Homo sapiens: one gene and its partner. The protein of the gene in region 1 purifies or fractionates together with the protein of each later gene. This does not show direct contact. Each region holds a gene or a part of one and is shown in the gene's direction. Other genes may lie near its edges.

Evidence for each region.
Region 2: the proteins of FOXR1 (region 1) and MRGBP purify together in Homo sapiens (affinity purification with mass spectrometry; 4 studies listed by BioGRID and IntAct, with this or other methods). This does not show direct contact.

Annotation. Positions count from the first base shown.
Region 1 is NC_000011.10:118,974,761-118,981,782, forward strand, and holds the end of FOXR1 (forkhead box protein R1), read left to right. Parts: intron 1-4,021; coding exon 4,022-4,096; intron 4,097-4,196; coding exon 4,197-4,444; intron 4,445-4,681; coding exon 4,682-4,908; intron 4,909-5,729; coding exon 5,730-5,968; coding exon of another isoform or gene 5,969-6,012; exon of another isoform or gene 6,013-6,096; intron 6,097-6,447; coding exon 6,448-6,476; 3' UTR 6,477-6,527; downstream 6,528-7,022. UniProt on the Homo sapiens protein: Transcription factor which acts as both an activator and a repressor.
Region 2 is NC_000020.11:62,792,639-62,799,493, forward strand, and holds the start of MRGBP (MRG/MORF4L-binding protein), read left to right. Parts: upstream 1-3,834; 5' UTR 3,835-3,885; coding exon 3,886-4,033; intron 4,034-4,471; coding exon 4,472-4,593; intron 4,594-5,948; coding exon 5,949-6,030; intron 6,031-6,214; exon of another isoform or gene 6,215-6,336; coding exon 6,337-6,411; intron 6,412-6,817; coding exon 6,818-6,855.

The DNA of each region.
Region 1 (7,022 bases):
GGTAGTAGCAGGGAGAACCAGCTGGCTATGCTGATGGATTGGATATGGCGTATAAGACAGACAATTGAGTATGAGCCTTCAAAGTGTTTTGACCTAGTGGAAGGATAGAGTTGCCTTGTACTGAGTGGGAGACAGGTTTAGGAAGGAAGATCAGGAATTCTGTTCTGGATATGCTGAGCTGGAGATCCTTAGACATCCAAGTAGAAGCATTGAGTCTGCAGTTGGATACATGAGCCTGGAGTTCTGGAGAGAAGTGGGGACTGCAGATGTAAATTTTGGGTCTTTTGGTATATGGGTGGAACTTAAGGAGTAAGAATAGAGGAGGAACAAGAATGAGCCCTGGGGGCAGTCCATTGTAAAGAGATTGGAGAGAAGAGAGATAACTAGCAAAAAAGACTATTGAGAATCAAAACTAGGGCGTCTGTGGTATCCTGGAAACCAAGTGGAAAAAGCCTTTCAAGGAGGGAGGGGTTGGATGAGTGGAATGTAAGTGATGATTGGACTTAACAAAGCAGAGGTCCCTGGTTAGTGGTTTTAGTAAGTGGTAGAACAAAAAACCTGACTGAAGGGGGTTTAAGAGTAGAAGGAGGGGAAGTAGAGGCAATGTGTTATGCCTCAACAGGAAATAAGATGGGATAATCTTTTTCTTTTTCTTTCTTCTTTTTTTTTTTTTTAGAGACAGGGTCTCTATCTGGTGCCCAGGCTGGACTGCAGTGGCACCAGCACAGCTCACTGCAGTCTTGAGCAGCCTTGAGCAGCCTTGAGCAGCCTTGAACTCCTCGGCTCAAGTGATCCTCCTGCCTCAGCTTTCCAAAGCAGGCTGAGATTACAAGCATGAGCCACTGCACCTGGTCCCTAAAATGGGAGAATTAACAGCATGTTTGCATGCTGATGAGAATGACCCAACAAAGACAAAAAATTAGTGACACAGGAAAGAGAGGGGAAGATTTGTGGAACAACATCCTTGAAAAAGCATGGGGGATCTGTGCCAAAGAGAGACACAGACATACAAAGGTGCTATCCTTGGGTCGCAATGAGATCACCAGTCCATTGATCCTATCACCTTTTCACTGTTTCAATCACTTGATATGTCCACCCTTATTTAACTAACTTGAATCCCATGGTCAGATATTACGCAGGTTCCCTGGATCATCTGTGGCTTTGGAGCACTTTGTTGGCCAAACCACAACCCTGACTAAATCCACCTCTGCCAAACGAGTGCGCCAAAACCATAATTCAGTGGACTGGTGACCTCAGTGGGATCATAGTTGGGGTTGAGGGAGTTAGCCAGAAAGACACGAGGTGGTGCGTTTTTATGTGGTGCATAAATGAGGTTACGGAGAGGTTGCAGTTGTTGGTTTAGGTTATGCCTGAGGGAGTGTCCACAGTAGAGTAGAAGTCAAACTCGCTGGAGAAGAGTTCAATAAATAGCAAAGATCATGTTTTTGTTTTTGAAGCAAGGTCTGGCTTTGTTGCCCAAGCTGGAGTGCAATAGCGTAAGCTTGGCTCACTGCAACCTCCCTTTTCCCGCTCAAGCCATCCTCCCACTTCAGCCTCCTGAGTAGCTGGGACTACAGGCTCACGCCACCACACTCGGCTAGATTATTATCTTTGTATTTTTTATAGAGATGGGGTTTCACCATGTTGCCCAGGCTGATTTCAAACTCCTGGGCCCAAGCAATCCGCCTGCCTAAGCCTCTTAAAGTGCTGGGATTACAGGCATGAGCCGCTGCACCTGGCCAGCAGCCAAGATTTAAGGCAGGAGTAGTGTTGGAGAGTGACAGCTAAACCAGGAGGTCAGTAGATGGTAGTAACAATGGAGATTGATTAGTATATAAGTTCCTGTATTAACTTGAATATATACATCCAGGAGCAGACAGTAAGGTCGAGTAAATTGTGGTCCTGCCTGATTGCTCTTAACAAGGGCTGCTCCAGTTGATACACAGAACTGCAGTAAAATAAGAGATTCTGTCTCTTTGCATGTTTCTCAACACTTGGTATTATCTTTATAATTCCAGTCAATTTGATTATCTCATTATCTTACAGTGTTTTTCGTATTATTAATAATGCTGATCATCTCGTTAGCCATTCAGTTATCCCCTCCTTGTGAATGCTGATTCATATCATTTGTCCATTTCTAAGTTTGTGTTGACCTTTTACATATTGATTTGTAGGAGCTCTCTATGTATCAGAGAACTGAGAAATTTGGATTGAAGTTTTGCTATTTTGTTTGTTTGTCTATTTGTTTTTTGCTTATGGTGATTTTTACTATGTTAGAACTTTTTTTTGAGACAGAGTCTTGCTGTGTCACCTAGGCTGGAGTGTAGTGGCACGATCTCAGCTCACTGCAACTTCTGCCTCCCAGGTTCAAGTGATTCTCCTGCCTCAGCCTCCCAAGTAGCTGGGACTACAGGTACACACCACCAAGCCCGGCTAATTTTTTGTACTTTTAGTAGAGATGGGGTTTCACCTTGTTGGCCAGGCTGGTCTCAAACTCCTGACCTCAAGTGATCCACCTGCCTCGGCCTCCCAAAGTGCTGGGATTACAGGTGTGGGCCACCGCACCTGGCCAAACTTTAATTTTTGTGCTATAATATGTGCATAAAACTTACAGATTCATTTTGAGGGTAACTGGCATCTTAATAGTATGTATTATAAGTCTTTGTTCAAGTATTTTAAGTTCTTTATTTAAGAGCTGAGATGGGAAGATTGCTTGAGTTGGGAGGTGGAGATTGCAGTGAGCCGGTGTCACACCACTGCACTCCAGCATGGGCAACCAAGCAAGACCCTGTCTCCAAAAAAACCCCAATTTTTCTATCTTTTGCTACTTTTTCCTTTTTTGAATACTATGTTGAATATTAGCAACATAATAGGCATCCTCTCTAATTACTGAGCTCTCCGATAAGTATATCATTTCTCAAACAAAAGCCTAGATTCATCTGTAATATAATGACACTCATAGGGACAGTGAGGGGGCAAAAATAGTTTTTGTCCTGAACAACCATTAATGGTGGTGCCACTTGCTAAGACAAAGAATACAGGAAGGCCAGGCATGGTAGCTCACGCCCGTAATCCCAACACTTTGGGAGCCCGAAGCAGGAGGATTGCTTGAACCCAGGGGTTCGAGACCAGCCCAGGCAACATAGACCCTCATCTATACAAAAAATACAAAAATTGGGCTGGGCGCGGTGGCTCAAGCCTGTAATCCCAGCACTTTGGGAGGGTGAGGCAGGCAGATCATGAGTCAGGAGTTCGACACCAGCCTGGCCAATATGGTGAAACCACGTCTCTACTAAAAAATACAAAAATTAGCCGGGTGTGGTGGCGTGCGCTTGTAGTCCCAGCTTCTTGGGAGGCTGAGGCAGGAGAATCACTTGAACCTGGGAGGCAGAGGTTGCAGTGAGCCAAGATCGCGCCACTACACTCCAGCCTGGGCGACAGAGCGAGACTCCATCTGAAAAAAAAAAAATACAAAAATTAGTGGGGTGCAGTGGCATGTACCTGTAGTTCCAGCTACCTGGGAGACTGAGGTGGGAGAATCTCTTGAGCACACCACTGCACTCCAGCCTGTGCAACAGAGCAAGACCCTGTCTCAAAAAAAATACAAGAATACAGGAGGAAGAGCAAGAAGATGGAATTCAGTTTTAGAAGTGCGTTTGAAGTGCCTGTGGGCTACCCAAGTAAAGACATCCAGTAGGTAGTTCTCCTTAAGGGCTAGCACAGAATGCTAGGCTAGAGGTGAAGATTTGAGAGCTCTACATTTTTTTATAGATGTTAACTGAAGCCACGGACATGCATGAGATCATTCAGGGATAGTATACGTAGAGTGAGAAGAAAAGAATGCAGAGGGGAATGAGAAGGTCAGAGAGGTAAAGGGAAAACCCGTAGAAGTAGAATGTGATGTTAACTCCCAAGGCAGGGCCCACAACCTTCTCCCAGAGAAGCCTTAAGGCCTAGGATCCTAGGGTCACAAAGGGATATTCTAGGATGTTTTGACTCTCTCTGTCTTTCTTTTTGCCAGTTGCCAGGTATAAACTCCGAATTGTTAAGCCACCAAAATTACCCCTAGAGAAAAAACCCAACCCTGATAAGGATGGTACGTATTGAGTTCTCTGACCTGTTTCTGTGGCCTGGGCTGGAGACCAGGGGCACCCAAAGCCAGTGGGCTGTGGCACACAATCTTTTGTTCTGCACAGGTCCAGATTATGAGCCCAACCTCTGGATGTGGGTAAATCCCAACATTGTGTATCCCCCTGGAAAGCTGGAGGTCTCAGGACGTAGGAAGAGGGAGGACCTGACAAGCACACTCCCCTCCTCTCAGCCACCCCAGAAGGAGGAAGATGCCAGCTGCTCAGAGGCCGCAGGGGTGGAATCACTGTCCCAGTCCTCCAGCAAGCGGTCTCCCCCTCGGAAGCGGTTTGCCTTTTCCCCCAGCACCTGGGAGGTATGCATTTTTGGGGATGGGAGTGGGACTTGGGCAGTAGGCGAGGGGCATGGGGAAGAGCCATTACAGTTCTGCTCTCTTAGCCATAGCAAAAGGTGAATGGGTTCAGAAATTACCTACATGCTTGGGTTGGGGAGAAGCCCAAATGGTGGCCTTAGACCACCCCCCCTTCCTGCCACTGCACCCTGGAGTAGAGGCTGAGGAGTCAGGACCAGTTCCTACTCTGTGCTCCTCTAGCTCACAGAAGAGGAGGAGGCTGAGGACCAGGAAGACAGCTCCTCTATGGCTCTCCCATCCCCTCACAAAAGGGCCCCCCTCCAGAGTCGGAGGCTTCGGCAAGCCAGCAGCCAGGCGGGGAGGCTCTGGTCCCGGCCCCCTCTCAATTACTTCCACCTAATTGCCCTGGCATTAAGAAACAGTTCCCCCTGTGGCCTCAACGTGCAACAGATCTACAGTTTCACTCGGTATGTGCCGGGGGCCCTGCGAGGAGGGGGAAGTGGGGGCCAGGGCCCCGGGCTGATGCCTTCCAATCCATCCCAGGCCCTGGGTTGCTGACCTGGTTTCCCTATCTGGGTCTGAGAGGACAAGTATGTTCCCAGTTCCCTTTTCCCAGGTGCATTTGTGCCCACATTGTGCCCACATTTTATGGCTTTAGTTTTTTTTTTCTTTTTAACAAGTTTTCAGTGTTCTTTGGGTATAGTTCTCCTTTAAAACATACATTCACTTGGGTCAGGTAACAGTTTCCCCACCATCCTCTGAAGATCAGCCAGTCTAAAGTCAGGTTTCCCCAACGGTTCCCACCTGCTTCTGCTAGGACTGGACTGCCTGGCACAGCTCCCTGCACCCCCAGGGGTGCAGAGAACCCAGTTGAGAAGGATTTTCCATTTAGCTCAGATAGTCCTGCTCACAGGAGGGTGAGGAAGGGAGTTTCTTGGGCCCTTTCCCAGTGTTAGGAGAAGTGCCTAATGTCTCAGGACAGGAATTTTCAAGTGGTGTCCGTCCTCAACCAAGATTCCTCTTACAGGAGCTGCTTGGCCTGATTCTGCTTTGTTCATGCTGTGGTCCAAGCCCTGGGCCCTCAGAGGGAGGGAGGGTTCAGGTGAGCCACGCACCACGTGGATGCTTTGCCACGTGCTCAGTTAGCAAAGAGCAACTCCAGGCCAACTTGCTACTATCCCCCTGGAGAGAAGGGCTAAAGCCCCTGGCCCCTGGGTAGAACATGCCCCAGAGAAGGGCATTCCCCAGACATAACATGCCTTTCCTTACCTCTCCTCCCTGTCCATAGAAAGCACTTCCCCTTTTTCCGGACGGCCCCGGAAGGCTGGAAGAATACTGTCCGTCACAATCTCTGTTTTCGAGACAGCTTTGAGAAAGTGCCTGTCAGCATGCAGGGCGGGGCCAGCACACGGCCTCGATCTTGCCTCTGGAAGTTGACCGAGGAGGGACACCGCCGCTTTGCGGAGGAGGCCCGCGCCTTGGCTTCCACTCGGCTAGAAAGTATCCAACAGTGCATGAGCCAGCCAGGTGTGAAGACTTGTTGTGCGTGGGCCCAAGGGGAAGAGACCTGAGGATCCTGACCCAAGGCCAAGTGTGGAAGCCTGGGTCACACCGTGGGGGTGGGGGAATGCATCTTCTATAGGAAACAGGGAGATTAACAGTGATCTGAGACCCTCAGGTGATGCCTGCCTGAGGTGAGACCTCCCCCACCAGTGTGGGGCGTGATGTGCCAGGAATCCATGGGCAAACAACTAAGGGGCAACTGGCCTTACCAAGACCAGCAGTCTAGGCAATAGTGAGCACACAACATGAGAAGCACAGTTAATAGAGGTTATGTACAAAGAGTACTTCTACTTTCCCTGGAGCAGTGCAGGGAGGCTTCAGAGAAGAGGCAGCATTTGAGCCTTGAGTGAAAGAAGCAGATGACCTGCTATGAGAGAGCATCCCAGGCCTAGGAAACAGCAATTGTGAAGTATAAACTCCTGAACTCTCTCCTTTTCTTACAGATGTGATGCCCTTCCTCTTTGATCTTTAACCCCAAGAAGCAACAGCCAGCTAATGCTTTATTAAAATTACCCTCACTAGCCTTCTGTGTGTGTCTGTGGAGGTGGGGTCTCTAAGGATGGGGTTAAGGGTGGAGGTGGAGATCAACTCCAAGGTTGGAGATGGAATGCCTTCAGCTTACAGATGCTCCTGAGGCAATGGGGCAGGTGCCTGCCGTGCAGCAAAGGGAGTCCGTAATTTTCTTTCCTCAAAGGAGGAAAATGCACAGCCTTCTAAAGCATCTTGGAGCAATTTCCATTTTTCTGGATTATGAAGATAATCTTGGCTGGATGCAGTGGCTCACACCTGTAATCCAGCACTTTGGGAGGCTGAGGCAGGAGGATCCCTTGAGCACAGGAGGTCAAGGCTGCAGTCGGCCATGATCACACCACTGCACTTTAGCCTGGGCAACAGCAAGACTCCATCTGTAAAAATTATTCTGGGAGATGCCCGTTTGTAGCAGCCAATTCTGTAAGCACCACACATTCATTCAATTGATACTCCTTAAGTGGCTACTGTGTACCAAGCTCAGGATAGA
Region 2 (6,855 bases), on another chromosome or scaffold:
ATCAAGATATTTGGGAAGCCACATCCATCTTTTGAAGGAAATTTGAGCAACAGGGATCAAAGAGTGAGGATCATTCATTCCATCCCCGTAAGGGAGGGAATGGGTCAGTAGGTTGTGTAGCCAGTCCACAAATGGTCACTGTCCACCTGCTGTGTGTTGGCCTTGCCTGAGAGGTGGGGGACAGTGGTGCCACGCCATTCCCAGCCCTGGCCCCCTGGAGCCAGCTGATAGCCTGGCAGGGGAGGCACACGTTGAACAAATTATCATCCGTGATTCACAATGACAAGTGTGCAAAGTGTATCCCACAAAGCACTTATTGAGTGAGAAACACAGGTGTGTGGCCACAGAGACCAAATGGGACCCTCACAGCTGGGGCGGTGACCTTGGAGCTGAGAGTGAAGGCTGCGCAGGAGAGAGACAGGCAAAGGGGTGGGGGCAGGCATTTGCACCCCAGGGGGCTGCAGGGTGATTTGCAAGGGGAGCCCAGGTGAGGGTCCACAGGGACTAGAGCAGGCCAAGAAGGGAGGTTGGTCAGGGGTCGGCTGGAGCCAGGCTTCTGAGGGTTGATTCCCGGCTCTGCCCTCAACCCAGGCAGTTCCCCACTCTACTCATCTCTGACTCCTCCCCTCAAAGCAGGCGTGACAGCGGCACCTGCCTCAGAAAGGAGGGGGCGTGTGGGGAAAGCAGGTATTTCATGACGACCGCCCAGCATAGAGCCCTGGAGACAGTACCCCTGCCCAGGTTCCCACTGGAGCAGGCAGACAGCCCCGGCTGGGATGAGCCAAGCGTGTGTCTCCATGTGGACCCGGCCCAATGTGGGGCTCAGCACCCTCGGGTCTCCTGGTCCGGGCTCCTGTCTCACGCTTTTATGCCATCTTTTCTCAATAGGCACAGGGGACCCCCAAGGGAGGAGGCGCTCCAGACTGAAGGAGGAGAGTACCTGGCAGGGACGGGTGGAGAGGCGCAGGGACCCCAAGGTGTCCAGGGAACAGTAAGGAGATGAGTAACGGTGAGGGTCCCGTCTCCCGAGCGTATCTGTGCTAAGGGGCTGTGGGCTGGGCTTCATTCCTCTTTAGAGCAAGGCTGAGGCCAGGGCCACCTAGGGGCCAGGGTAGAAGACGTACCACGTGACAGCAGTGGCCTAGACCCCTCACGAAGTCTCACTGGGCCATATCTCCACCAGGGCATGGCAGGGACCGGTATCACCAGCGGCCCCCTGCACAGATGGGGAAGCTGAGGCCCAGGTCCCAGTCAGCCAAGCCAGCTCTTGGACCACTCAGCGGTCCCAGCAGGTGAGGCTGACCAGAGCCTGCCTGGGCTAAGAGGCTGCGTTCACCAGTGCCAGCTGTGGTTGGTCACCAGGATGCCTGAGCGCGCTGGCACAGGCCCAGGGCACCCTGCAGAGCAACCAACCCTCACCGAGATCCCCAGGGAAGGGGCTGTTGTTGGCCCATTGTACGGAGGAGGGCACTGAACCCTCAAGAGGCTCAGGGCCTCGCCCGGTCACACAGCTGGAAGGCGCCAGAGCCAGGAAAGGGACCCGGAAGCCCGACCCGGAGCCTACACCCGCAGAGGCGAAAACATCTGCGTAGCGGCTCCCTGGCCAGTGGGCCGTGGTGGGCGTGGCCGAGAGGGAATGGGGCGGAGAGAAGCCCGTGAGGGCAGGGCGGAGGCGGAGGCGGAGGCAGAGGCGGAGCGGGCGGAGCCGGAGGCCGCGGCGGCCTTGATTGGAGGCCGCCTTAAGCTCGTCATGGATGCGTTTTGACCTGGCGGCCCCGCCCCTGACCCGCCCCCGAGCCGCCCTCCCGAGCGCTTCCCCGCCCGGCCCCAGCCTAGGCCCCGCCCTGATCTCGCCCCCTCTTCACCGTCCGGCCCCGGCCCCGCCCCGCGGTGGGGCCTCCGCAGCGACCCGCGGTTAACGCTTCCCCAGAGCTTGGGCTGCGCGGCGGCCGGGAGTCGGAGGCAGGCGGTCAAGGCCGGCAGGGCCGGACCCCCTACTTGCCCTTTCTCCCAGCAGGCGCTGGACTCTGGGGGCGGGCGTGAGCCCCTCCGTCCCGCACCCAGACCCGGGCAGCGAGCCCTATGCCTGCAGTAATTGTGGGGTTTCTGGTTTTGTTTTTTCCTTAACATCTTTATTGAGACCGTTAAGTTCACCCGCTTAAAGCGCACGATTCGGTGGGGTTTTGTTGCGAGCAACCGTGGCCACTATCTAATTCCAGAGCATTTCACCTCCTTAAAATGAAGCTGGGCCCGGCCGGGCGCGGTGGCTCAAGCCTGTAATCCCAGCACTTTGAGAGGCCGAGGAGGAAGGATCACCTGAGGTCAAGAGTTCGAGACCAGCCTGGCCAACATAGTGAAACCGCGTCTCTACTAAAAATACAAAAATTAGCCGGCCGTGGTGAGCGCCTGTAGTCCCAGCTACCCGGGAGTCTGAGGCAGTAGAATCGCTTGAACCCAAGAGGCAGAGGTTGCAGTGAGGCGAGATCGTGCCATTGCACCCCAGCCCGGGCAACAGAGCGAGACTCTGCCTCAAAAACAAACAAAAAAGAAGCCGGTCCCCATCCGCAGTGACTCGCGTTTCCCTCCCCCTCCCCCGTCCCCGGCAACCGTGCATCTACTTTCTATTCCTATGGAGTTGCCAGTTCTGGCTCTTCCTGTGAATGGATTCCCATGCTGTGTATTTTCGTGTCTGAATTCTCTGACTTTCGTCTCAGCCCGCACCCACGCTGCCGCAGTCCGCGCTCGCTGCTTTTAGGCTGAACGCGGCTGCGCCGTGCGGGTGCCCGCGCTCCGGGCGCCCCTCGCAGGTTCAGCCCCGGGTTGGGGGCGGCGCTTGCCTCGCGGCTGCGGGTCCCAGCCTGAACCTGTGTCTTGTTCCACTGCCGCGGGCGCCCGCCACGGAGCTGCTGCTTCCTAGGGAGACGGTTCCATCGTTGAAGGAACGGCCAGACTGTCTTTCGCAGCAGCGGCCCATCTGACCGCACAGCACGACCGCACGAGGGTCCCGAGCCCTGACCCTCGCAGCACTCGTCACCCCGGCCGCGTGGTTGTGGCGGTCTCGGCGGGGCAGGGGGTCCCCACGCGGGCTGATTCTAGTTTCGCGTGACCGATGGTGCTCATTAGCCATATCTGTACATCTTTTTTTTTTTTTCGAGTCGGAGTTTCGCTCTTGTTGCCCAGGCTGGATTGCAATGGCGCGATCTCGGCTCACTGCCTCCCGGGTTCAAGCGATTCTCCTGCCTCAGCCTCCCGAGTAACTGGGATTACAGGCGCCCGCCACTACGCCCGGCTACTTTTTTTGTATTTTTAGTAGAGACGGGGTTATACGATGTTGGCCAGGCTTGTCTCGAACTCCTGACCTCAGGTGATCCGCCCGCCTCGGCCCCCCAAAGTGCTGGGATTACAGGCGTGAGCCACCGCGCCCGGCCCATCTGTACATCTTCTTTGGAAAAATGTGTATCCAAATCCTTAGCCGTTTTATAGTTAGATTGTCTTTTTATTATCGAGTTATAAGAATTATTTATACCTTCTACAAGGAAGTTCATTATCAGATATAGGATTTGCAAATATTTTCTCTCATCTGTGGGTCGTCTTTTCACTTTTCTGATGGTTTCCTTTGAAGCACAGACTTTTTTGTTTGGGTGCAGTGTATTTCTTACTGTGCTTTAAAGAGGAACACGTTTTAAGAACCCCCGCGCGGGGCGGAGCAGGGCGGAGTCCCCGGCGGGAAGGGACCCGAGACCTCGGCTGCGCCTGCGCCGACGCCGGCGCGTGAGCCCGAGCGCGTACCCGGCGGAGCGCGCGCCCGCCCCCGAGTGCGCCTGCGCGGAGCTCGTGGCCGCGCCTGCTCCCGCCGGGGGCTCCTTGCTCGGCCGGGCCGCGGCCATGGGAGAGGCCGAGGTGGGCGGCGGGGGCGCCGCAGGCGACAAGGGCCCGGGGGAGGCGGCCACCAGCCCGGCGGAGGAGACAGTGGTGTGGAGCCCCGAGGTGGAGGTGTGCCTCTTCCACGCCATGCTGGGCCACAAGCCCGTCGGTGAGCGCCCAGGCTGCGGACGCGCGTGGGGGCGGGGCGGGCAACCGGCGGGGCGGGGCGGGGCCTGCGCTCGCGACACCCTCGCCCCCACGCTCCCCGCCGAGCCCGGGCCGTGACACCGCCGCCACACCCGTCCCGGGACCCCCGCCCCCTCCCACGCGCCCTTCGGACCCCGCCCCGGACCCCGCCCACGACCCCTACCCCCGTGAGACCGCGAGGTCCCAGCCCGCAGTGCCCCACCCCCACCCCCGCCCCGGGACAGCCCACCCCCTCCCACACACACCACCCAGCCCTGCCCCCCCACAGCCCCTCCACACCCTGGCCCTCCCCATCTCTCCGCAGCCACCCTTGCCCCTCCAGTCCCCAGGGCAGCCCGTCCCCTCCATCCCCTTTCTCCTCACCGCTCACCGGTTATCCCGCCGCCCCTCCTCCCCTCAGGTGTGAACCGACACTTCCACATGATTTGTATTCGGGACAAGTTCAGCCAGAACATCGGGCGGCAGGTCCCATCCAAGGTCATCTGGGACCATCTGAGCACCATGTACGACATGCAGGCGCTGGTGAGCCCAACCGCCCTCCCTGTGCCGCCCGATGGGGGCACGAACCCGCACACCGCTCTCTGAGAGTCAGCCTGAGCTGGGCAGAGGCCCCTCCATGTCTGCTGGGGTCTGCTGGGCAGAGTAGAGGCCCCTCCATGCCTGCTGGGGTCTGCAGTGAGCTCTCAGGGTCAGCCTGAGCTGGGCAGAGGCCCCTCCGTGCCTGCTGGGGTCCCCTGGGCAGAGACCCCTGCAGTGAGGCTCGTCCTTAAGGAGGACATCCCGGGGCTCCAGAGCCTGTCATGGAAAGCACAAACACAGTGCTAGCAGCTGGCTAGCTTTTCAGGGGCTCTGCTTTAGACTGGGTGCTGGGCCAGAGTCTCCAGCTGAGACCCTGGGGAGGGAGGGAAGGATGCAGAGTCCCGGGCCCTTAGGCCATTGTCAGCCTCCTGGGAGGCCCCCGAAGTGCTTTAGGCAGAGGGTGACCCTATCTGAGTCACACCAAGGTGAATTTGGTGACTTCTGTGGGAGTCAGACAAGTAGAGTTCCAGTCCTCGCAGAGCTTGGAGCTGGCACTGTGTGACGGGCGAGCGGGTTAACTAGGTAAGCAGGGTGGCCAGAAGAGACAGGTGGGTGTTCCAGGCCCTGTGGCAGCAGGAGGTGGTGGGTCCAGGAGCTCAAAGAAGGTGGTGTACTTGGAGAGTGGGGTGGGGGTCAGGGGTCAGGTGACCAGGAGGAGTGGGGACCTGTGCTGGTGGAGAGTCTGTGCCAGCCACGTTGGACTCAGGGCCACACCGGCCATCAGTATGACATAGGTCTCTCCCTCTGGTCTGTGCGACCTCAGGAGGGCAGTGCCTGGCAAGCACTCTCTTCTTCTTTGCCTGGTTCTGTGCCTGTGGCGCTCCCAACCGACACCCTCGGTGTCCATGGGCTCCTGCCACGTGGATGAGAACTCGAGGTGCCTGCGGCCTTTCCCCAGGGCTGTCACTGTGCCCTCTGCATGCCGCCTTGGGGAACGCAGTCTCATGGTGAGACTGCAGGCCGTGCTGGGCAGGCGGAGCCCACAGGTGTGTGTCACCAGGGCTGCCCGGTCCTCAGGGCCCGCCTTAGTGATGCTGGCCCCGGTGGGTCTTCCTGACTCCTGCATCTGCTGCCGCTGGTTCTGCCCTCCCTGGGTCTGTCTGGAAAGCCCAGCTGTGGCAGGCGCTGTTCACAAAAAGAAGAAATGCCCTTTGCCCTTGCCCCGCCCGCCGCAGCCTCCAACACAGTGATGTGTGCTCATTGGCCTCTCCCCAAGTGGCTCTTACACGGCTCTAGTGACTTCTTGAAACTGCATCTTCACCCTTGTTTCTTAAACAAAACTCTCTATTTGATATCAGCATGAGTCTGAGATTCTTCCATTCCCGAATCCAGAGAGGAACTTCGTCCTTCCAGAAGAGATCATTCAGGAGGTCCGAGAAGGTGAGGCTCGGGAAAGGTTGGGCTTGGGATTCAGAAAAGGCCAGACCCTGGCCAAGGGCAGGGAGGTGAGGGTGAGGACCCCGGGCCTCCAGGGAGGTGTGAGGGTCCAGCGCAGACCCCGCCCTACCTGTGCTTGGGTGGTCTTGGAACCTCCGGGATTGGAGAGGACTTTGTTTGAGAGCAGTGGCTGGACGGAAGCTGAGGCCTGTGTGGGCAGCAAGCGTCGGAGCAGTCCCTGGCCTGACCATCCCCCAGCGTCGGCCACCACCGTGGGTTTTCGGTGAGCGTCAGCTGTCTCCTCCACAGGAAAAGTGATGATAGAAGAGGAGATGAAAGAGGAGATGAAGGAAGACGTGGACCCCCACAATGGGGCTGACGATGGTGAGTGTGGAGCTCACCCTGCCCTGATGCCCTTTGGGGCTCAGCACCCCAAGACTGCCTTCAGGCAGGGCACAGTCAGGTGGGCGTAGAGCCTGCGGTGCAGAGGCCCCAGGCAGGTCATCTAGGCACAGGATGGATCCTGCAGTGCCCCCTCCCCAGGAGCTGAGTGCCTGCTCCATGTTGTAGGCCAGGGTCTGAGCGGCGGTCCCTGCAGTGCCCGCCGCAGGCAGGTCCTCAGGAGGACCAGGCCCCTCTGTGGGCCCAAATGCAAGGGGCTCCCAGCTCAGGAGGAAGCTTTGGGTTCAGAGGGTCACGTGTCAGTATGCAGATTTTTTTAACTGAACAGGAAGACAAAAATAAGATTCTGGATATTCTGTTTTCAGCCAAGTGATTTTTCGTTTCTCAGTTTTTTCATCTTCAGGGAGTTTGGGGAAAGCATCAGAA